Linked DNA regions of Homo sapiens. The protein of the gene in region 2 purifies or fractionates together with the protein of the main gene of each other region. This does not show direct contact. Each region holds a gene or a part of one and is shown on either strand. Other genes may lie near its edges.

The links. Proteins that work in one complex are often made in the same cells at the same time.
Region 1: the proteins of RPA4 (region 2) and PARP2 purify together in Homo sapiens (affinity purification with mass spectrometry; 3 studies listed by BioGRID and IntAct, with this or other methods). This does not show direct contact.
Region 3: the proteins of RPA4 (region 2) and HMCES purify together in Homo sapiens (affinity purification with mass spectrometry; 3 studies listed by BioGRID and IntAct, with this or other methods). This does not show direct contact.

What each region holds. Positions count from the first base shown.
Region 1 is NC_000014.9:20,338,520-20,346,905, forward strand, and holds the start of PARP2 (poly [ADP-ribose] polymerase 2), read left to right. Parts: upstream 1-5,115; 5' UTR 5,116-5,122; coding exon 5,123-5,168; intron 5,169-6,412; coding exon 6,413-6,568; coding exon of another isoform or gene 6,569-6,607; intron 6,608-6,874; coding exon 6,875-6,945; intron 6,946-8,343; coding exon 8,344-8,386. UniProt on the Homo sapiens protein: Poly-ADP-ribosyltransferase that mediates poly-ADP-ribosylation of proteins and plays a key role in DNA repair.
Region 2 is NC_000023.11:96,878,636-96,886,212, reverse strand, and holds RPA4 (replication protein A 30 kDa subunit), read right to left. Parts: upstream 2,306-7,577; 5' UTR 1,903-2,305; coding exon 1,117-1,902; 3' UTR 746-1,116; downstream 1-745. Other genes in the region: DIAPH2 (protein diaphanous homolog 2), read right to left, coding at 4,495-4,634.
Region 3 is NC_000003.12:129,288,536-129,296,140, forward strand, and holds part of HMCES (abasic site processing protein HMCES), read left to right. Parts: intron 1-318; coding exon 319-462; intron 463-2,143; coding exon 2,144-2,269; intron 2,270-7,605.

The DNA of each region.
Region 1 (8,386 bases), on a different chromosome or scaffold from region 2:
TTGTTTATAACATCAGGCAATATAATATATAAATAAATATAAATAAGTTTGGAAACATATTTATAACATCAGGCAATATAATAAACCATACTTGTGGAATTTCAAAGCTTTTAAAATCTTACTAGTTTCCTTCAATTACTGATCTTTTTGATTCTGAATTTCTTTTTTAAACAACTCTCAAGATCCACCTCTTTGAATAAGGTAGGAAAGAGAAATCCTCAAGACAGTGAAGTTCAATAAAGTCTCACCTTTCCTTCAGAACCCACCCTCTTTTTCAAGTCATACCCCTTGCTCCTTGACACCCTGTCTTATTTAGTATCTCATTCAACAAATATCATTGAAAGCTAGATACTGTTCCAGGCATTGGTTACAGAGCAGGAAACAAAATACACAAAGCCCTGGCTCACTTGGAGCTTACAGTCTATTGGAGAGAGTCAGATCTCCTAAAAATTAAACAAATATATGTTAAGTTGTAATTAGTACTCTGGAAAAAAATAAAGCAGAGTAAGAGGCTACAAGTGATAATGGGAGTGATGTTATTTATATCAAGGAAGGCACCACTGCTACTAAGAACAAAGACCTGAAGAAAGTCAGGGATCAATCTTGTTAGCTGGAAGAAGAGTAGACCAGGTAGAGAGAACAGAAGCCTGTAGGGAGAAGAGTGACTGGTATGTTTGAGACAAAGTGGAAAGAGGCCAGAGTGCCTAACAGGAGTAAGCAAAGGGAAAAATAGTAGCAGATGAAATCAAAGCACTGGGGTAAGAAGCAGATCATATAGAGCCTGGTCAAGCCACAGCATTTGAGATGGGGAGCCACTGGAACAAAAATCTAACATGATCTAACTTTCATTTTATTTATTTATTTTTAAATTTATCTTATTTTTTAGACAGGGTCTTACCCTATTGCCCACACTGGAGTGAAGCAGGGGAATTGCTTGAAACCCGGAGGCAGAGGTTGCAGTGAGCTGAGATCACACCACTGCACTCCATCTGTAAAAATAAAGTAATTCTAGATAACGTGATGTCTTATCAGAAAATACTATAGCATGCTTTTTTTAAAGAACTTTTTTTTTCCTTTTGAGAAAGGGTCTTACTCTATCACCCAGGCTGGAGTACAGTGGCATGATCACAGCTCACAGCAGCCTTGACCTCTCAGGCTCAAGTGATAAATTATACAGCTAATTTTTGCACTTTTTGTAGAGTCGGGTTTCGCCATGTTGACCAGGCTGGTCTTGAACTCCTGGGCTCAAGCAATCCTCCTGCCTGAAGTTCTGACTGCTGAGATTACAGGCATGAGCCCCCACACCTACCCTAAAGGACATTTTAAAATCATAACTAGAATATCATTATTTTAAACCTAACTAGAATACCATTATAATATCTAATAAATAATTCCCTAAAATCATCCAATTTCCAGTCCATATCCACATATCCCCATTTATTGCTGGCTTGTTCAAACCAGCATCCAAACATTGCATTTGGCTGTTAGGCTTCAAATGTCTCTTTTACTCTAAAACAGTCCTAACAATTTTTTTTTTACATAATAGTATGAAGAGAGTAGGCCAGTTGTCCTGTCGAATATTAATTTGTATTTTTCATACTATGTGAGCCTGAATATCTTTTCCATGCACTTATTTATCAAATGCAAACTGTTTATTAATATCTTTCATCCACTTATCTATAGAGGTTTTGGTTTTAATTATGAAAATAAATTTGTTGGTTTCTTCCAGGCTTTTTTTGTTTTTGTTTTTCAGACAGAGTCTCGCTCTCGTCACCTAGGCTGGAGTGCAGTGGTGCGATCTTGGCTCACTGCAACCTCCGCCTCCCCAGTTCAAGCTTCTCCTGCCTCAGCCTCCTGAGTAGCTAGGATTACAGGCACCCACCACCATGCCCAGCTAATTTTGTGCTAGAGAGGGGGTTTCACCATGTTGGCCAGGCTGGTCTCGAACTCCTCACCTCAGGTGATCCGCCTGCCTTGGCCTCCCAAAGAGGTGGGATTACAGGCATGAGCCACCGCACCCAGCCGGTTTCTTCCAGTTATTGGTGACATGCTTCAGTACTATTTTAGTTACACTTGTTCTGTATTTGACTATAAAGAAGTTATATCTTCACAATATATTTTCAGTAATTCTCACTCTGACCACCATAATAACTAAAAAAGAAAAAGAATCAATAAAAACTTTAAAAATACATTTTTAAAAATGTGTGTGGGATGGTAACTACTGTCATGAAACAGAATACATTAGCCTAGTAGATAACAACATAATTTGGAGTCACCCAGATCTGGCCCTGCCTTTTAGGAACTGTATATTATGAGCTGAATTGTGTCACCTCAAAATGTATGTATTTGAAGAACTCTCATTATCTCAGAATCTGCCTGTATTTGGAGATAGGACATGTAAAGGGGTAATTAAGATAAAATAAGGTCATACGGGTTGGGAATAATCCAATATCACTGATGTCCTTATAAGAAAAGGAGATTAAGGGCCAGGCACCGTGGCTCACGCCTATAATCCCAGCATTTTGGGAGGCTGAGGCGGGTGGATCACTTGAGGTCAGGAGTTTGAGACCAGCCTGGCCAACATGGTGAAACCCTGTCTCTAATAAAAATACAAAAATTAGCCAGGTGTGGTAGCCCACGCCTATAGTCCCAGCTACTCAGGGGACTGAGGCAGGAGAATCGCTCAAGAACCTGGGAGGTGGAGGTTGCAGTGAGCCGAGATCTTGCCACTGCACTCCAGCCTGGGCAACAGAGCAAGACTCTGTCTCAAAAAATAAATAAATAAATAAAATAAAGGAGATTAGGACATAGATGCACAGAGAGGAAAGACAGCATCCATCTACAAGCCAAGGAGAGAGGGAGGCAGGCCTTAGAAGAAATCAGCCATGTCAAGACCTTTACCTTGGGCCTCTAGCCGCCAGAATTACGACAATGTATGTAGTTATAGCAGCCCTAGCAATACACTGTGTGATCTTGAATAAATTAAATTTTTCTAAAGCTCAGTTTCCTCAACTATAAATGGAGATAATAACATATGCCTCATGAGGTTGTTGTGAGAATTAAATAATGTATGTAAAGCTCATAGCATAGTAAGAACTAAATAAATTCTGGCTATTATTCTTATGAAGATTAAATGAGGTTATGCATGTAAAGCATTAGCTCAGCCTCTAGTACACAAGAAAGTTCTACTAAGTATTAGCTATTTTTAATAAATTTTCATTTCATAAAGGCTTATATTTTTCCTATCTCCAAAGTATTTCCTTTTAGACCTAGTCTAATTTATTTGTGTCATAATTAAGTCAGATGTAACAGGCTTTGTACCGCTGAAACAGGTTAAGCAATCCTATCCAACAACATTTATTGAGCACTTACATTTTGTTAGATTTATTTCCAACTACTTGATATGCTTTGGTGTTATTGTAAATGCTACCTTATCCAAAAATTTTATTTATAGTTGTTTGAAGCTCTTTTATAAGCATGGAATTTATTTTCACACGCTATTTTCTATCAGTCTTGCTAGGCTTTGTATTAAGGTAAAATTTTTATCCTGTAGTTTCTTCTAGCTTTTAAAATATTCATAATCAAATTACATGCAAATAATGAGATTTTGGGTTTTTTCTTTCTAAACTTTACATCTTTTGATGAACAAAAATTAAAATGTATCAATTTTTTTTTCTTTGTTTTTTTCAGACGGAGTCTCACTCTGTCACCCAGGCTGGAGTTCAGTGGCGGGATCTCGGCTCACTGCAACCTCCGCCTCCCGGGTTCAAGCGACTCTCGTGCCTCAGCCTCCCAAGTAGCTGGGATTACAGGCGCCCGCGACCACGCCTGGCTAATTTTTCACTTTTTTTTTTTTTTTTTTTGTAATAGAGACGAGGTTTCGCTATTTTGCTCAGGTTGCTCTATAACAGATACTATGCTATCCTAACAATATGTTTCTAAATGATATTAGTGCCAAAACCAGGATTACCCAGTGATTTTGTTAATACAGGCTTATTGAATCGGAGGGTCTGGGGTGGGGAATTTGCTTAAGTATGCAGTCCCCATACTCGGTGATTCTCATGAAGCCAAACATTTGGGCGCCCCTCACCTGATGTCACCAAGAACCAGAAGACCAATTAGAATTTTCGTGGGCTTCCTGCCCCATGGTTCCCTCTGTTCCCAAAGGGTTTCTGCAGTTTCACGGAGCTTTTCACATTCCACTCGGTTTTTTTTTTTTTGAGACTCGCTCTGTCGCCCAGGCTGGAATGCAGTGGCGCGATCTCGGCTCACTGCAAGCTCCGCCTCCCGGGTTCACGCCATTCTGCTTCAGCCTCCCAAGTAGCTGGGATTATAGGCGCCCGCCACCACGCCCGGCTAATGGCTAATTTTTTGTATTTTTTTTTTTTAGTAGAGATGGGGGGGGGTTTCACCGTGTTAGCCTGGATGGTCTCGACCTCCTGACCTTGTGATCCGCCCGCCTCGGCCTCCCAAAGTGCTGGGATTATAGGCGTGAACCACCGCGCCCGGCCCGGTTTCGTTTTGTTTTTTTTTTTTTTTTTTTTTTCCAAAAATGGGCGGAGGAGAGTAGTCTGAATTGGGTTATGAGGTCCCCTGCGGGGTACCTCACCTCAGCCATTGAACTCACTTCGCTGGCCGTGAGTCTGTTCCAAGCTCCGGCAAAGGAGGCATCCGCCGGGCCCCTCCCCGAAGGGCGGGGTCCACGGCATCTCCTGCCCAGTCTGACCTCGCGCGGAGCCCCGTTCTCTGGGAACTCACCTCCCCGAAGCTCAGGGAGAGCCCTGTTAGGGCCGCCTCTGGCCCTAGTCTCAGACCTTCCCAAGGGACATGGGAGTGGAGTGACAGGACGCACTCAGCTCGTGGCCCCACTGATGAGCTTCCCTCCGCCCTATGGGAAAAAGTGGTCTCATACAGAACTTATAAGATTCCCAAATCCAAAGACATTTCACGTTTATGGTGATTTCCCAGAACACATAGCGACATGCAAATATTGCAGGGCGCCACTCCCCTGTCCCTCACAGCCATCTTCCTGCCAGGGCGCACGCGCGCTGGGTGTTCCCGCCTAGTGACACTGGGCCCGCGATTCCTTGGAGCGGGTTGATGACGTCAGCGTTCGAATTCCATGGCGGCGCGGCGGCGACGGAGCACCGGCGGCGGCAGGGCGAGAGGTTCGGAGCTCAATATCGCGGGACGGCATGCGGGGGGCGGGCAGTCAGAAAGGAACGATGCCACCTACTGTGACCCCCTTCCCCTTCCAGCTCCCTATAACCTGCACTTGGCTACCAAACCAGTTGGGGTGCTAAATTTTGTAAATTTCGGTTTTCAGAGCTTTGGGGATTACATAATTGTGCATAAAGCCTTGCGGAGCTGTAACAACTAATGTGCCAGTACTGTTGTTAATACCTAATGTCATCCAATTTACAAAAAGTAATTGTAAGGCACACCATTATTTTATACACAACAAAGGATAAGCACTGAAAATGGTGAACTGTGATTCACTGCTTATGTCATCCATTGTAAGATGCATCCCAGTTCCAGAGAGTAAAATGCGAGTCTTAGACCTATTGAGATACGGTATTATGTGTATAATGTTCTTAAATGCATAGGTGCACCCTATAAATTAGGTTCTATTGTACTTCTCTAGAAGTACAGTATTGTACAATATTCTAATATTGGAGTAAGTGAAGTAGGAAGAGATCAAATACTTCTCCAAGTTTCCACAGAGAAAAGCAGCAGAGCTAGGCTCTAAATTAGGCACAGACCCTTGAGCACTTAACTAACCTTTATCCCATACGGCCTCATGTATGAGGTGGGTATTTGGGGGACATTGGGACACAAGTAAAACAGATAAGCAGGCCTCAATCTATGAGCTTACAAGACTCCTGGGACTCCCTTTTATTTTGTTTTATTTCATTTGGCTAGAATAGCAATTTAGGAAGAATTACACAGACTGTTACACAAAAGTAGTGTGGGACAGTTGTTATTGCCTCTGTAAACTTAGAAAATTATCTTAAACCGGCGGGGTGAGGTGGCTCACGCCTGTAATCCCTTGGGAGGCCGAGGAGGGCAGATCACTTGAGGTCACGAGTTCGAGACCAGCCTGGCCAACATGGTGAAACCCTGTCTCTACTAAAAATACAAAAATTAACTGGGCATGGTGGTGCACGCCTGTAATCCCAGCTACTCAGGAGGCTGAGGCACGAGAATCACTTGAACCCAGGAGGCGGAGGTTGCAGTGAGCCAAGATCGCACCACTGCAGTCCAGCCTGGGCGAGAGAGTGAGACTCCACCTCAAAACAAAAAAAGAGAGAAAATTATCTTAAACCATTTCTTTAAAAGATTTTTTTCAATCTTTAAAATCTACACGTATTCGGGTGTGTACTCATTCTTTGCTAATTTCCAAATTCTGTAGCATTAAATGAAAGCAAAAGAGTTAATAATGGCAACACGGCTCCAGAAGACTCTTCCCCTGCCAAGAAAACTCGTAGATGCCAGAGACAGGAGTCGAAAAAGATGCCTGTGGCTGGAGGAAAAGCTAATAAGGACAGGACAGAAGACAAGCAAGATGGTATGCCAGGAAGGTCATGGGCCAGCAAAAGGGTCTCTGGTAGGAGTGGATCTGGGGATGATATCTTGTTATTTCAACTCCTATTTCGTCCTTCTTTCAGGGAATAATTAATTTCTCTATCCTTTGGGCATACCACAGCACTAATCTACTGCCTTGAATCTTCATTTTCATGTATTTGAGATGGATTGGGGTCTAAGGAAAGACCAGGATTGGTTGGGCGGGCAAAGTTAATCCTGACAAGTTTCTGTTTTACCACAACAGCTGTTTTTGATTCCCATAAAGTAGTACCTATCTGTCTTTCCTCAGAATCTGTGAAGGCCTTGCTGTTAAAGGGCAAAGCTCCTGTGGACCCAGAGTGTACAGCCAAGGTGGGGAAGGTAAGAGACTCTGGAACCGATCTTCAGTCCATGGATATCTCAGAGAGCATCCTTTGTTATAAGGACTCCTGTCTGGGATGCTGTTAGTACTCATTTTAGGAATCCTCTCCAAAATATGATGAGTGAGTAGTTTTCTCTAATGGCAAGAGATAGGAGTGGTAGGGCTTGGGGTTAATAATCAGGGTGTTTTTTAACATGGTGTGTTAGACCATTCTTGCATTGCTGTAAAGAAATACCTGAGACTAGGTATTTTATAAGAAAAGAGGTTCCTAGAGGCTGTACAGGAAGCATAGCAGTATCTGCTCCTCAGGAGACCTTAGGAAACTTTTACTCATGGCAGAAGGTGAAGCGGGAATAGGCACGTCACATGGCAAAAGCAGGGGAGAGAGAGAGAGACAGAGAGAAAGGGAGAGAGAGAGATTGGAGAAGGTGTCACAGAGAGAGAAAGAGAGAATGGGGAGGTGTCACACGCTTTTAAACTACCAAATCTTGTGTGAATTCACTCACTATCAAGAGGACAGCAGCAAGACAGTGGTGCTAAACCATTCATGAGAAATCCACTTCCATGATTGAATCACTTCCCACCAGGCCCCACCTCCAGTACTGAGGATTACAATTCAGCATGAGATTTGGAAGGAGACAAATATACAAACTATATCACATGCGTACCTTTTGTGGTTGCCATCAGCCTTCTACACCTCATTCTCTTTTTAAACCAGAAAATGGTATCATTGTTAAGGGAAAACTGTTTTCTTGTTCTAATGAGAAACTGTACCCTGGAATGGCATGAGTTACTGATGAATGGGGAAAAAAGAAGGCTACCTCTGGAATAAGTTTTCTTTAACTCAGTTAGAATCTTTTTTTTTTTTTTTTTTTTTTTTGAGATAGAGTCTCACTCGGTCACCCAGGCTGGAGTGCAGTGGTGTGATCTCAGCTCACTGCATCCTCCACTTCCTAGGTTCAAGTAATTCTCTTGCCTCAGCCTCCCAAGTAGCTGTGATTACAGGTGCCCACCACCACGCCCAGCCTGGGCTAATTTTTATATTTTTAGTAGAGACGGGGCTTCACCATGTTGGCCAAGCTGGTCTCGAATGCCTGACCTCAAGTGATCTGCCCACCTTAGCCTCCCGAAATGCTGGGATTGCAGGCATGAGCCACCATGCGCAGCCTAACTCAGAATCTTTTGTATAGTTAAAAAAAAGGAAGCATGTTTTCATTTATAGTAAGGTTACACCCAGGTTACTGGTAGAACATAGGTTTGCAATTCTTTCCTTGGGAGATGAATGTTGATGTTGCTGTAGAATGATGACTTGAGCCATAAGAAAATTTAGAGCCTCATTTAGGATGTCAGGGCTGAACCTATACTAATGTTGATTTTTTCTCTCTCTCCCTTTCTAGGCTCATGTGTATTGTGAAGGAAATGATGTCTATGATGTCATGC
Region 2 (7,577 bases):
GCTTTCGTTAATGGTCAATTATTTAAAAGTCTCACATAATTTATATAATCTACACTAAAATGTATTGTTAGAACTAGGCTATAGCATATGTTCTGGGTATTTTATATATAGAAAAGAAAAAATTCTGGATAAGTGAAACTATTAATCCTCAAGGATATAAAACAAAAAGGCTTTTTCAAATGTACTTAGAAAAAAAAATCACACAGGAAAGTTAAGATTTTGTAAACTACTTTAATAAAACATTTGAATAAATTTGTGTTAAACTCAGTAAGTTTCATATTCCTATGAGCTGTTTCCCTAACGTCCTAAAAATTACCTTTTTATACATAAAACAGAGCATTTAGTAAAATAAATAATACACCAGCACATCAAACTTACAGAAACTCTGGCATCCATTTACCATACAACTACAATAAATTGTAATTTCATCCAAATACCACATCATATATGAAATAATCATTGAACTTCACCACATTTTAAAAAATTTCAAAGATAACCTGGCAAAAATGGTTTATTTAAACACAGTATAATCTTATTTTAAGAAAACATAAATTCATAGTAATAAGAGCAAATCACACATAAATGTTTGAACTGAGCATTAGAATTCACAAATTAGTATCTTCAGCTCATTTGAATTAATCAAATACTAAATACTATATTGAGCAAGAGATAACAGTATCATTATAATAAGCTAAATCCAAACACGGAAAATAAGTCTAACATAAAAACAAGCAAGACTTTTTTTTTTTTTTTTTTTTTTTTTGTCTTTTCGCTGGCTCCCTGACTGCAACTAGTTTTTCTTTTGGAAAAAGAAGCTCCAACACAATTAAATAATAAATTTCTACATTTTCTGTAGTTTTTCTTCCCCGAAAATCATGTTTCCATTAGCTTGCTAGTAAATCCTACAGAGTTGTCAATTTATCCATCACCGTCTCTCTCTGAGCTTCAAATACAGAAAATCCGAAAAGTTCAAAGCAGTTAGAAAAGCAGCGAGTTGACAAAGAATGCCACTTGAGATTTTTTTTTTTAGTCCTACTTCCTAAAAAGTCAACAGGTCAAAATTACTCACAGCTGGATGCAAGGGTCTTCGAAAAATGAAAGGATGTTTTCCCTGCCTCAATCAGCAGACTTAAAATGCTCCCGATCCACAGTGGGATAGATGTGGCCCTCAACGGTCAGATAATCAATCGCTTCCTTGATGGCCTTGACGCTAAGGTCGCAGAGCTGAGCCCGGAGCTCATGGATGCTCTTCCCTTCCTGATGAGGACACTCATGAATCAAACGCAGCACTTCGTCCTGGATGAAATTGCGGTGACTCTCATCGTTATCCCCAGCATCATTCACTTCTGATGGAGACACAGGCACACTTTCTACAGTGGTATCACGACGGGCTTTATCCAGCATCATGTGTGCATTGACCGTTTCCAGAATATGCACGGTGAACTCGTTCATGTCCTCTAGGACATGAATTTTCAATACCTCAAGGCTCTTTGTTCCCGTGGGACATTTGAGGATACCAAACACTTTGACATATACTCCGACTGACAATGGAGTCACCTGCTTGACTTTCTCTCTACCAAACCACTGTCGGGCCTCGATTGGTTTCGCGGTCATATCATCAATTTTGTAACAAATGTGATTTGAAGCCTTCTCTGCCCCTCTGATTACCCCCACGATGGAGACCTGGGAAACTATAATTCCCCTAACCTTGAACACAGGGTCAAACACAGTAGAGCTGAGAAGCTGGTTCACATTACACGGTACAACGTCCTGAATTCGGACCTTAGGTCTTTGGGTCTTAATAGCAGGAGTTGCATCTCTCTCACACAGTTGGTCACTGCCTCCACTCGCTCCATCAGCAGCAGAAATGCTGCCATAGCTCCCAAACCCACTCTTACTCATCTTCAAGACAGCTCAGGCTGAGGAGAAGGTGGGCTTTGGCTCGTCTGGGGCTCCACGGACGGCTTTGAGTTCTCCACAGAAGGCTTCGAGCTCTCCACAGAAGGCTTCGAGCTGTCCGAAAGGCTACGATTGAATGCTGGGAGGCTGAGGACGTGACAAGCGTCACGCTACCTGTGGACCAATCAACTACCAGAATGCATCTGCTTCCAGCCAGTCAGGGTCGGCCACCTTCTCACCTGATCGCATAATCCTTCCCTGTGTGTCAGTGGTTGCTACATTCTAAAAGTCCCACACGAGGGGAGCCCTGTTGCTTAGCTGGTCAAAGCGCCTATCTATTAAAAGTCCCACGTGTAATTTCAAGCAAGCCTTTCCCAACATCTCTATAAAAATGCATTTTTACTAGCCCCCCTCTTTATTTCTTAATGCTGCAACTTCTACAATTACTTTTAAAAGACTCATTTATTCATTCATTCAAACAACAATGCAACAGAAATTTTAGGAGCACAAAGTGCTTGGCAAAACGGTAGAGTGCTGTACGTTACGTGCAGGGGGGAAAAATGCACCACCGTAGTTACTGTTCTCAAGAACTCACGTCCCCTGTTCATTCAAACCATTAAAACTAGGAGCATCAGGCCGGGCGCAGTGGCTCACGCCTGTAATCCCAGAACTTTGGGAGGCTGAGGCAGGTTGATTACTTGAGGTCAGGAGTTCGAGACTAGCCTGCCAACGTGGTGAAATCCCGTCTCTACTAAAAATACTAAAATTAGCCAGGCGTGGTGGTGCAGGCTTGTAATCCCAGCTACTCGGGAGGCTGAGGCAGGAGAATCGCTTGAACCCAGGAGGCAGAGGTTGCAGTGAACCGAGACAGCACCACTGCACTCCAGCCTCGGTGACAAGAACAAAACTCCGTCTCAAAAAAAAAAACAAAAAACAAAAAACAAAAAACCTAGGAGCATTTTGGAAGAAATGGCAAGACAATCGTCTTTCAACGATTATCATACTCTAAGATAAGTCACATCTTAACACTGGCTTTTAAAAAATTTTTTGTTGTTTTAAAATTGTAATTTTCTGGGCATTTTGCCAAGTGCACTATAAATAAGTAATTAATATATTTCAATTTATACATAAATCCAAACTGAATGACTGAGCTCTAAATTATTTTCAAGGCTCTGTGGACAGGACAGAAAAGTACAAGACTTAGACCTATTATATATTAGGAAAAACATGGATAAAATCACAGTAAGTTTTTTATATACTCTTATGGAGTAAATTCTGAACTTAAGATTCTAGTAGTTACATAAATAGATCCCGGATTTTTGTTTTTTTGTTTTTTTTTTTTTTTTTTTTTTTTGGAGACAGGGTCTCGCTCTGTCTCCCAGGTTGGAGTGCAGTGGCGGGATATGGGCTCACTGCAACCTCCACCTCCCGGGCTGAGGTGATCCTCCCACCTCAGCCTCGTGAATACCTGGGACCACAGGCGCACATCACCACACCTGGCTGACTTTTTTGTATTTTTGGTAGAGACGGGGTTTCACCATGTTGGCCAGGCTGGTCTCGAACTCCTGGACTCAAGCGATCCACTTGCCTCAGCCCCCTGAAGTGCAGGGATTATAGGTGTGAGCCCCCACGCCCGGCCAAGAATGTTTTGATATTTTATTGAAATTTTATTTTTCTTTATAAAACATTTTATTTTGGGTGTTATTGATTTAAAGGCTTAATAAAGGAACCACAGTTACTGGAATCCACCATTGGCAAGTAACCTAATAACAATCCTTTGTAGTTAGTTAATAGCCTAAATTAGTAGAGTTTTGAGAAGTTTATTAATGCTCTCACTTCTTTTACTGGTTAAAATAATTCACTTTTTGCTATCTCAAAATTACAGAAATATGTGAAGAGTATATCTAAAACTTATAGAAGAACATAAAGTTATATATACCTTTCAAGTTTTAAAAGAATAAAATCGGCCGGGCGCGGTGGCTCACACCTGTAATCCCAGCACTTTAGAAGACCAAGGCAGGTGGATCACGAGATCAAGAGTTCGAGACCAGCCTGGCCAATATGGTGAAACCCCTTCCCTACTAAAAATACAAACATCAGCCAGGCATGATGGTGCGTGCCTGTAGTCCCAGCTACTCAGGAGGCTGAGGTAGAAGAATTGCTTGAACCTGGGAGGCAGAGGTTGCAGTGAGCCAAGATCGTGCCACTGCACTCCAGCCTGGGCAACAGAGCAAGACTCTGTCTCACAAAAAAAAAAAAGAATAAAATCATGGAGCAAATATACTTAATTTGCTTTATAAATAAATATATAATAATTATCTGATCCCACAAATAGATTTCCATGTAAATGTGGATATTTAACTTCTGGCTCTATGTTAACATTTGTATTCTTAAAATTGTACATTACTAGAGATCCAACTAACTAAATATATTTTTAAAAGTTTACGACTTCACAATCAGATGCTGCTGTTTTATTAACATCAGATTTTTAGTCAGGAAATCTTGAGGTTTAAATAACAAAACTTATTATATTCCCAAACAATTATATGCACTACAAATTGTATGAATCATACCGAAATGATAAGAACGACTTACCTGACCGGATTGCTGGTTAAAGAAACCCTGAGGGATTCTAGGCAATTAAGAAGTTTCTCATCTGATATACCCGATCGTAATTCATGAACATATTCTTGTGAAGACAGGGTGCATTCATGTTTGCTGTTTTTCAGCCCACCCTATAAAATAAACAAAGAGACCATTTTAGACAATGTTTCAAAAAAAATTTAAGTAAAATAATGCATAGAATATTTATTTTGTTATATAAAAATGTGTGCAGAGTGCTACACACTTAAAAATTCTTGATCACAGAATTGATATAGTAAAATTGTGTTGTATATATCTCAACATTTTCCTCAACCTCATTTAAAAAAAAAATTACAGTGCTGGTGCTCATGACCTGAATAGAATATGAACTTGAATTACATAAAGTGTCATTGACAGGGGTGCTTAAATTTACAATTCAGGCATTAGAATTAATATTAGCTAGTCCTCCTTAACCCAGAGGATAAGCATTCAAAAATCATCTTATTAATTTTCCTAGTTAAGATATGTATATTCAATTCCACAAAATCCAGCAAATAAAATTTAATATATACCATTATACATAACCCAAATCTATTGAAAGATATCAGAGTATCAGCCTTTCTAAAAAAAATAAGTGAAAACAGTTATTAAAATGTAAAACAATATAGTCTCCAATTAGCATGTTAATTAATCAAATCAGTTGAAAGCATTCACCAGTTCCCAATTATTCCTTTCTGGTACTCTCAGGTTGTAGATTAATCTTAAAAAGTCATTAAATACATTTATCTGATAGTGACTAGTTTTTAACTTAACTTTCAATATAGATGGAGTTGTTTCTAGAACTCATCTCATCACAGCTCCTTAACTTCATCATCTTGCTATAACTATATAAGTAGTTCAGGGAAAAGGCTGGGAGGAAAATATTGTCAACACATTCACTATACTAACAACTGATAGTTTCACATTCTAGACGTACCTAATCATAATTGCCCCTTTCCTATACTGTAAATGTATATCCCTGAATTAAGACTCCAAGCTTGAGTCCCATTTTACAGGTTCATAAAAATTACACTCAGTTTCTGCTAAGCATCTAAGGATACTTACTATAAAATAACATCATAAGGATATACTATCATAGGAAATATAATATTATAAGGAGATCATAAGGAAAGGAATTTTTCCCCATTGGGTAGAGGTATTATCATTAGAGGATATGACATTTAAAAAAATGTTAATAATGAGAAATGAGTTCCCTATGATTTCACACTATTTGGGTTTTTATTGAGAATGCCTCCTCAATGTAGAAAGTGTTAATCATTCTTAATTTCTGAATTTCAAAAATCCCATTAGATGCTAAATTTTTAAAGTCTGATAAAGGCTTATAACATATAGGGGAACTCTATTCCCTTAGCGCTGTGGCAATATTATAATTATTATAGCACTTAAAATATTGTGGTAGAGGTCATTATTTGTGTCTGTCTCACTTCTACATTGGGAACTCCATCTATGCCACATAACTAACACCGGTCATGAATTTAGTGAGCTTCAATAAAAGTGTGTTATTATTGAACTTCTCCATAATAACTGCAGAACAAGGAATACGATTTCATACTTTGAGCTCCCATATTTTGTATAATGGCCACTGACTTGGTATTTCTTGCTTCGTTATGAGACACAGTAGACGTTAAAAATATACTGGATGGGCCGGGGACGGTGGCTCATGCCTGGAATCCCAGCACTTTGGGAGGCTGAGGCGGGTGGAACACTTGAGGTCAGGGGTTCGAAATCAGCCTGGCCAATGTGGTGAAACTCCATCTCTACTAAAAATACAAAAATTAGCTGGCATGGAGGCACATGCCTGTAATCCCAGCAACTCGTGAGGCTAAGACACGAGAATAGCTTGAACCCGGGAGGTGGAGGTTGCAGTGAGCTGAGATCCCGCCACAGCACTCCAGCCTGAGCCACAGAGCAAGACTCCGTCTCCTCCACAAATAAAAAAGTATACTGGATGAATCATCATCACCTAAATGGCACAGTAAGTAAAACCATCACCGAGAGATCATGTCCATATTCCTGTAACTTCCTTATCCATCTATTATTTCACAAGGAATAATAGCAAGTAAATATTTAAAGCATAATTTTGCAAATTCAAAATTATAGTTTTATTTTTGCTCGGCCAACTCACTTTCTACAACAACACAAAGTTCATCAGTAACAAGGGATCTATTTACTACATGTGCCAGTCTGAAAACTACTAGTAAAACGAATTAAAATTTTCAAGTCTGTAGTCACATACCGCTTTCATATAATCCTCAAAGTTATTTCTAAATTAATATATAAAAAGGCACCACTAATCTTCCCCTAGAGGATTGTATATGGAATTTAACCCTGTTGCGTGACCTTTGTATTTTGCAGTTTTCTCTGCCTTGAAGACCCTTATCCCAACCTCTCCATTGCTGGCTCCCATCATTTTAATCTCAGCTCCATAGTCTTCTCCCCACCCCACATTCTAGTTATCATCGCAACACCATTTTAAATATCATTTACAGTATTACCTCTATGAAAATTTATTTTTGTAATTTAGTTGTTTACTGTCTTCTGCGCTAAAACATAAGCTCTTATGACAGGATTCTTGCCTGCCTTGTTCACCACTATATCCTCAGATCTTAAGACAGTGCTTAAGTAAGCATTCAATACATATTTCCTGAATGAATGAATGGATGGATGGTTGGGTGGATGGATGGATAGAGAATAAACAAAAGGGTAGATGAGTGATGAGTTTCAACATGCTGAAGATTCTAAGCTTAGTTTTGCTTCAGAATATTATAGTTCTGAGACTTTCAGTTGTAATATATTCAGAGATGCTGAATATAGAACAGGTAAACTGAGACACTGTATGGTATGCTGAGGACAGCTCAGAGGTATTTTATATTGGGCATCTCATGGACACAGAATAATCTACTGAGAAAATGTTGGTTCCCTTTTTCTAATTGATTCCCTACAGGATTAGTCTAATTGGGACATATGGTTATGGCCGAGGTACTCCTTGTGGACAAGTGAGCCAGCCCATCACTTTGTGGCTCACTCCCCACCCA
Region 3 (7,605 bases), on a different chromosome or scaffold from region 2:
AATACAAAAATTAGCTGGGTATGGGGGGGCGTGTGTCTATAGTCCCAGCTACTTGGGAGGCTGAGGTGGGAGGATGGCTTGAGCCAGGAGGTAGAGGTGGCATTGAGCCAAAATAGCGCCACTGCACTCCAGCCTGGATGACAGAGCCAGACCTTATCTCAAAAAAAATAAAAAAATTGTTTTCAAGTAGATTCCCTGTTTAAAAATAATCTTGAATTCTTTATATTTCAATACTCCTAAATAATGTAATAAATACATATGTTAAATTAGGTTAGAATTTCATTATGATCTCCTCACTAGATCTTCTCTCCGTGGCAGGATGCAGACTCATCTGAGCGTATCATTGCTCCCATGCGCTGGGGCTTGGTCCCTTCTTGGTTCAAAGAAAGTGATCCTTCCAAGCTGCAGTTCAATACTACCAACTGTCGTAGTGATACCGTAATGGAGAAACGGTCATTTAAGGTAGGTGGCTGGTAGCTATTAGTGCCCCGTATACCTCAGAAATAAGGTTCCAAAGGGTGTTTCCATCCTAGCCTACAGAGGACAACCAAAAATAAATAAATAACACAAAAAAGAATGTTCCCAGTTGTTAATGTGGAATGCTATTTTGTTACTACATAACAAACCACACCAGACTTAGTAGTGTGAAACAAAATGATAAACATTATCTCTCATATTCTCTGGGTTGACTGGGCTCATCTGGGCAGTTTTCACTTGGAAGTTCTCATGTTGCAGTTAGATGGCAGCTGAGGCTGGATGTCCAAGATGACTTCTTCACCCACATCTGACCCTTCAGCTGGGATGACTAGAACAACTAGAAGGCTTTCCATATGCCTAGCTCGAGGGTGTCAGGGTAGCCAGGCTTCTGTTACGGTGACTCATTTACCCCAGAGCTCATGATCCAACAGAGCAGGACAGAAGATATAAGCCTTTGTCTTACAGCATCACTTAATCTTGGCAGTCATACAGCATTACTTATGCTGTATTCTTTTATTGTTATTGTTTAATTTTTTTTTTTAAATAGAGACAAGGTCTGGCTATGTTGCCCAGGCTGGTCTCAAACTCCTGGGCTCAAGTGATCCACCTGTCTGGGCCTCCCAAAGTACTGGGATTACAGGTGTGAGCTATCACGCCCGGCCTACTTCTGTTGCATTCTATGGGTTACACAGAGCCAGCCCAAATTCAGTGTGGGAGGTGTCTACATAGGGTGTGAATACTGGGAAGCATGCTTCATTGGGGAGGCACCTTTGAAGACTAGCTATGACAAGTACCTATTTGTTAGAAAAGAGGTGATTGCTTTTATGTACATTATTTAATCTTTTCAACATCTATGTGAGTTGTGACTTTCTTTATACATAAGAAAAGAGAGTGGCCGGGCACGGTGGCTCACACCTATAATCCCAGCACTTTGGGAGGCCAAGATGGGCGGATCACGAGGTCAGGAGATCGAGACCATCCTGGCTAACACGGTGAAACCCCGTCTCTACTAAAAATACAAAAAATTAGCCGGGCGTGGTGGCGGACGCCTGTAGTCCCAGCTACTCGGGAAGCTGAGGCAGGAGAATGGCTTAAGTAAACCCAGGAGGTGGAGCTTGCAGTGAGCCGAGATCACGCCACTGCACTCCAGCCTGGGCGACAGAGCAAGACTCCGTCTCAAAAAAAAAAAAAAAAAGAAAAGAGAGGTACAGAGAAATTAAATAACTGTTTTAAGGTCATACATTGGCAGACCTCAGATTTTATGTATTTATTTGTTTGTTTATTTATTTTGAGATGGAGTCTCATACTTTTGCCCAGGCTGGAGTGCAGTGGCATGATCTTGGCTCACTGCCACCTCTGCCTCCAAGTTCAAGTGATTCTCGTGCTTTAGCCTCCCAGGTAGCAGGGACTACAGGTGTGCACTACCACGCCCAGCTGATTTTTATATTTTTAGTAGAGATGGGCTTTCACCTTGTTAGCCAGGCTGGTCTCGAACTCCTGACCTCAAGTGATCCTCCCATCTCGGCCGCCCAAAGTGTTGGGATTACAGCCGTGAGCCACCCGCCTGGCCCAAACCTCAGATTTTAATTCAAGTTCTCCAAGTAATGGCAGCCTGTGAAACATGATTGTATCACTAAGACCATATCTTGCTCACATTTTCCCTCAGGTGCCTCTGGGAAAGGGAAGACGCTGTGTCGTTTTAGCAGATGGATTCTATGAGTGGCAGCGATGTCAGGGAACAAACCAGAGGCAGCCATACTTCATCTATTTTCCTCAAATCAAGACAGAGAAGGTATCATTATCAGCATTCACAATATATATTTGGAAAGGCACAGGGAAACAAATTAATCCAAAGGACATTTTTTTCTTCCCCATAGTTTTATTTATTTATTTTAAAATAACAGCTTTGGCCCAGTGCGGTGGCTCACGCCTGTGATCCCAGCACTTTGGGAGCCCAAGACGGGAAGATTGCTTGAGCCTAGGAGTTTGAGACCAGCCTGGGCAACATGGTGAAACCCCGTCTCTACAAACAATACAAAACTAGCTGGGCATGGTGGTGTGTGCCTGTAGTCCCAGCTACTCGGAAGGCTGAGGTGGGAGGATCACTTGAACCCACGAGATAGAGGCTGCAATGAGCTATGATCACACCACTGCACTGGGCGACAGAGCAAGACTCTGTCAAAATAAAATAAAATAAAGTGAAATGAAATGAAATGAGCTCATTGAGAGATAATTCACCTTAAAATTCACCTTTTTAAAATGTGCAATTCAGGAATGTTTTAGTATGTTCAAAGTATGCAATTATTACCTCTATTTTTAGAATATTTTTATCACTCTAGAAGGAAACTACATATCCATTAGCAATCACTCTTTATTCTCCACTATGCCCAGCCCCTGTCAAACACGAATCTACTTTCCATCTCTGGATTTGCCTATTTTGGACATTTCATAAAAACAGAATCATAGAATATGTGGTCTTTTGTGACTGGCTTCTTTGATTTAGCATAATGTTTTCAAGATTCATCCATGTTTGGCATGGATCAGCACTTCATTCCTTTTTGTAAGAACAGACCACATTTTGTTAATTCATTCATCAGTTGATAGACACTTGGATTGTTTCCACTTCTTGGTTATTATGAATAATGCTGCTATGAACATTCATGTACAAGTTTTGCATGGATTTGTTTTCATCTCTCTTGGATAGATGCCTAGGAGTGGAATTGCTAGGTCATATTACAACTCTACGTTTAACATTTCCTTCATAAAACTTTCACTGTGGCTGGGCGCAGTGGTTCAGGCCAGGCACGGTTGCTCATGCCTGTAATCCCAGCACTTTGGGAGGCCAGAGCAGGTGGATTACTTGAGCTCAGGAGTTCAAGACCAATCTGGGCAACATGGCGAAAACCCATCTCTACCAAAAATACAAAAAATTAGCTGGGCGTGGTCCCAGCTACTTGGGAGGCTGAGGTGGGAAGATGACTTGAGCCCAGGAGGTGGAGGTTGCAGTGAGCTGAGGTCGTGCTACTGTACTCCAGCCTGAGTGACAGAGTGAGACCCCATCTCAAAAATGAAACAAAAACCCTTTCACTGTAAGACATAATTTGAACTGTTCATGTTAAAACATTATCAGGAGATTGAAAACAAATCTGACATGCCAACATCATGTTTTATTTTTAATTAGATTATTTAGTCTGACACTGCTAAAGCACCTGAGTTCTTAGCAGTTTGCTTGTTAAAATTGGGAATTGTTTGTTCACCTGTCATCTCATTTTGGGGACTGGAAATAGTGTTACCGAGTAAAAGGGACTTGCTACCCAATGTGCTAGAAGCCAATACCATGATACTGAGTAGCTGGTCCCAGCTACTTGGCAGGCTGAGGTGGAATGATAGCTTGAGCCTGGGGTGGGGAGTGGAGGGTGCAGTGAGCCGAGATTGCACCACTGCACTCCAGCCTGGGTAACAGAGAAAAGTTTTTTTTTTTCTTCTTTTTTTTTTTTTGAGACAGAGTCTCTCTCTGTTGCCCAGGCTGGAGTGCAGTGGCGTGATCTCGGCTCACTGCAGCCTCTGCCTCTCGGGTTCAAGCGATTCTCCTGCCTCAGCCTCCCAAGTAGCTGGGACTACAGGCGTGTGCCACCAGGCCCGGCTAATTTTTTGTATTTTTAGTAGAGACGCGGTGTTAGCCAGAATGGTCTCAATCTCCTGACCTTGTGATCCACCCGCCTCGGCCTCCCAAAGTGCTGGGATTACAGGCGTGAGCCACTGCGCCTGGCCGAGAAAAGTTTTTTATTTCAAGTCGACTAACAAGAAGACAGGAGTCCAGCTCAACTCTGTCTCCCTAGCTGGCTTTAAGGAGTACTTTTATTAAAAAAATGTTTAGGGAGTGGATTCTGGGATTAGTAGGTGATTGGTGGAAGGAAAGGGGAGGCCTGGAAAGTCTTCAGGTATGTGCAGTTATCTCTTCCTGCCTCCATATAGGTCTCATGTGCAAATTCAGGGGGAGTTAGTGTGAAATGTGGTGGAAATTCAGGCTGTGATATAAGCAAGCTTGTTTTGCATATACTCTAGTCAGTTATTGGTTCCAACCAATTCAGCCAGTTTTGTTATCTTACAAGCGGAGGGAGTTTCACTGTTTCAGCAAGTTATTTTCTTATGTGCTATCCTGTAAGCCCAAGAATTTAGTCATTGGTGTTTTTGTTTGTTTGTTTGTTTTTTAACTCTTTGGGGCAGTTTCAGTAGTCAAGAGAGTTTGCCTCACCCTCAGATAATTCCCTATCAGTGATGGGTGCACCAAAATCTCAGAAATCACCACTAAAGAATTTATTCATGTAACCAGACACCACCTGTTCCCCAGAAACCTATTGAAATAAAACATAAATTAAAAAAGAAAATTCCCAGTCTAGCCAGTCTAGTAACACACAAATGATTTGGTACAAGACAAGATTAATTTATAAAACATCTATCAATTATAATAGCAAATATTAAGCACTTACTACTAGTCAGTTACTCTTTCTAGGAACTTAATGTGTATTAGCTTAATATACATTAATTCTTTTTTTTTTTTTTTTTTTTTTTTTTGAGACAGAGTTTCACTCTTGTTGCCCAGGATGGAGTGCAATGGTGTGGTCTTAGCTCACTGCAACCTCCACCTCCTGGGTTCAAGCAATTCTGCCTCGGCCGCCTGAATAGCCGGGATTACAGGTGCGTGCCACCATGTCTGGCTAATTTTTGTATTTTTAGTAGAGACAGGGTTTCACCATGTTAGCCAGGCTGGTCTCTAACTCCTGACCTCAGGTGATCCGCCTGCCTCAGCACCCCCTAAGTGCTGGGATTACAGGCATGAGCTACTGCGCCTGGACTTGAACTTAATTTTTACACTACAGATAGTTGGATTTTCCTTTTTGATTCAGTCTGACAATCATTCTTTTAATTTGTGTTTAGAACATTTAATTTAATGTAATTATTGATGTGATTGGGTTAAAATCCATTGTTTTGCTAGTTTTCTATTTGTTCCATCAACTCTTTGTTCCTTTTCTCCTGATCTTTCTGTTTTGGGAATAATCTTTTATAATTGCATTTCATCTCTATTATTGGCTTATTATTTTTGCCTCTCAAAAAATGTCTTTAGGCCGGGCGCAGTGGCTTACAACTCTAATCCCAGCACTTTGGGAGGCTAAGGCGGGCGGATCATGAGGTCAGGAGATCAAGACCATCGTGGCTAACAGTAGAGAAACCCTGTCTCTACTAAAAATACAAAAAAAAAATTAGCCTGGTGCAGTGGTGGGTGCCTGTAGTCCCAGCTACTTGGGAGGCTGAGGCAGGAGAATGGTATGAACCCGGGAGGCGGAGCTTGCAGTGAGCCAAGATTGCGCCACTGTGCTCCAGCCTGGGCAACAGAGTGAGACTCCGTCTCAAAAAAAATAATAAATAAATAAATGTTTTTAGTAGTTGCCCTACAGCTTACAGCATACATTTTAAGTTAATAACATTCTGTCTTTATACACTACATTACTATTGAAAATACCTTACAACAGTATTCTCCCAGTTCCTCCTGTCTTTTGGGCTACTGTTATGCATTTTATTTTTACATATACTATAAACTTACAATACATTGCTATTTTACTGTAGATGGTCAATTATGTTTTAGAGTGGTAAAAAATAAGAAAAGTCTTTGTACACGTACCTTCATTTTAGCCATTTCCATGGATCTTCACTTATTTGTATAGATCCAGTTTTCTCTCTGGTATTACAGCCCTTCTGCCTGAAGGACTTTAATTTTTCTTGTAGTGTGGGTCTGCTGGTAATAAATTCTGATTTTTTTTTTGTCTGAAAAAGTATCTATTTCTTTATTTTAAAAAATCATCAGGGCCGGGCACAGTGGCTCATGCCTGTAATCCCAGCACTTCGGGAGGCCGAGGTGGGCGGATCACCAGGTCAGGAAATCGAGACCATCTTGGCTAACACGGTGAAACCCCATCTCTACTAAAAACACACAAAAAATTAGCCGGGCGTGGTGGCGGGCACCTGTAGTCCCAGCTACTTGGGAGGCTGAGGCAGGAGAATGGCATGAACCCAGGAGGCAGAGCTTGCAGTGAACCGAGATGGCGCCACTGCACTCCAGCCTGGGCGACAGAGTGAGACTCCATCTCAAAAAAAAAAAAAAAAAAATTCATGCTTTTTATTGATATATAATTCACATATAATAAAATTCACCCTTTTAAAATGTACAGTGGTTTTTAGTATATTCAAAACCTTGGCCAGGCACAGTGGCTCTAAAATTAACCATGCATGGTGGCTCGTGCCTGTGGTCCCAGCTACTTGGGAGTCTGACGTGGGAAGATCACTTGAGCTTAGGAGGTCGAAGTTGCAGTGAGCCGAGATCACACCACTACACTCCAGCCTAGGTGACACAGTGAGACTCTATCAAAAAAAAAAACAAAAAAAACCCCACAAAATGTTGTGCAGCCATCATCACTAATTCCAGAATGCTGTTATCAACCCCAAATAAAACCACACCCATTAGTAGTCACTTTCCATACCTCCCTGTCTTTAACCCCTGGCAACCACTGTCTGGTATTTTTCACCGTATATAAGATTCTGGGTCAGTGGTGTTTTGTTTTCTTTCAGTACTTTAAAAAAATACACTTCATTGTCTCTGGCTCTCATAGTTTTTTTGAGAAGTCTAGTGTATAACTGTCTTTTTTCTTTTGTATGTAATGCATAAATGTGTGCTGCTCTCACCACCTTCCCCTCCACCTCCCTCCACCCCTGCTTTTAAGATTTTCTCTTAGGGCAGCTGTTTGAATACATTGTGTGTATGTGTTTTAGCCTATTCTCTTTGCTGCTTGGATCTGCAGTTTGATATCTTTCATAATTTATGGAAATTTCTTGGCTTTTTCCTCTTCAAATATTTCTTCTGCCCCATTTTCTCTTTCTGGGATTCTAATGACACATGTGTTAGATGATTTAATTGTACCATCGTTCTTGGATATTCTCTCCATTTTTCTTTCTTTTTTTCTTCTCTGTTTCAGTTTAGATACTTTTCACTGACCGTTTTTTTTCTTTTTTTGAGATGAAGTCTCGCTCTGTCACCCAAGCTGGAGTACAGTGGTGCAATCTTGGCTCACTGCA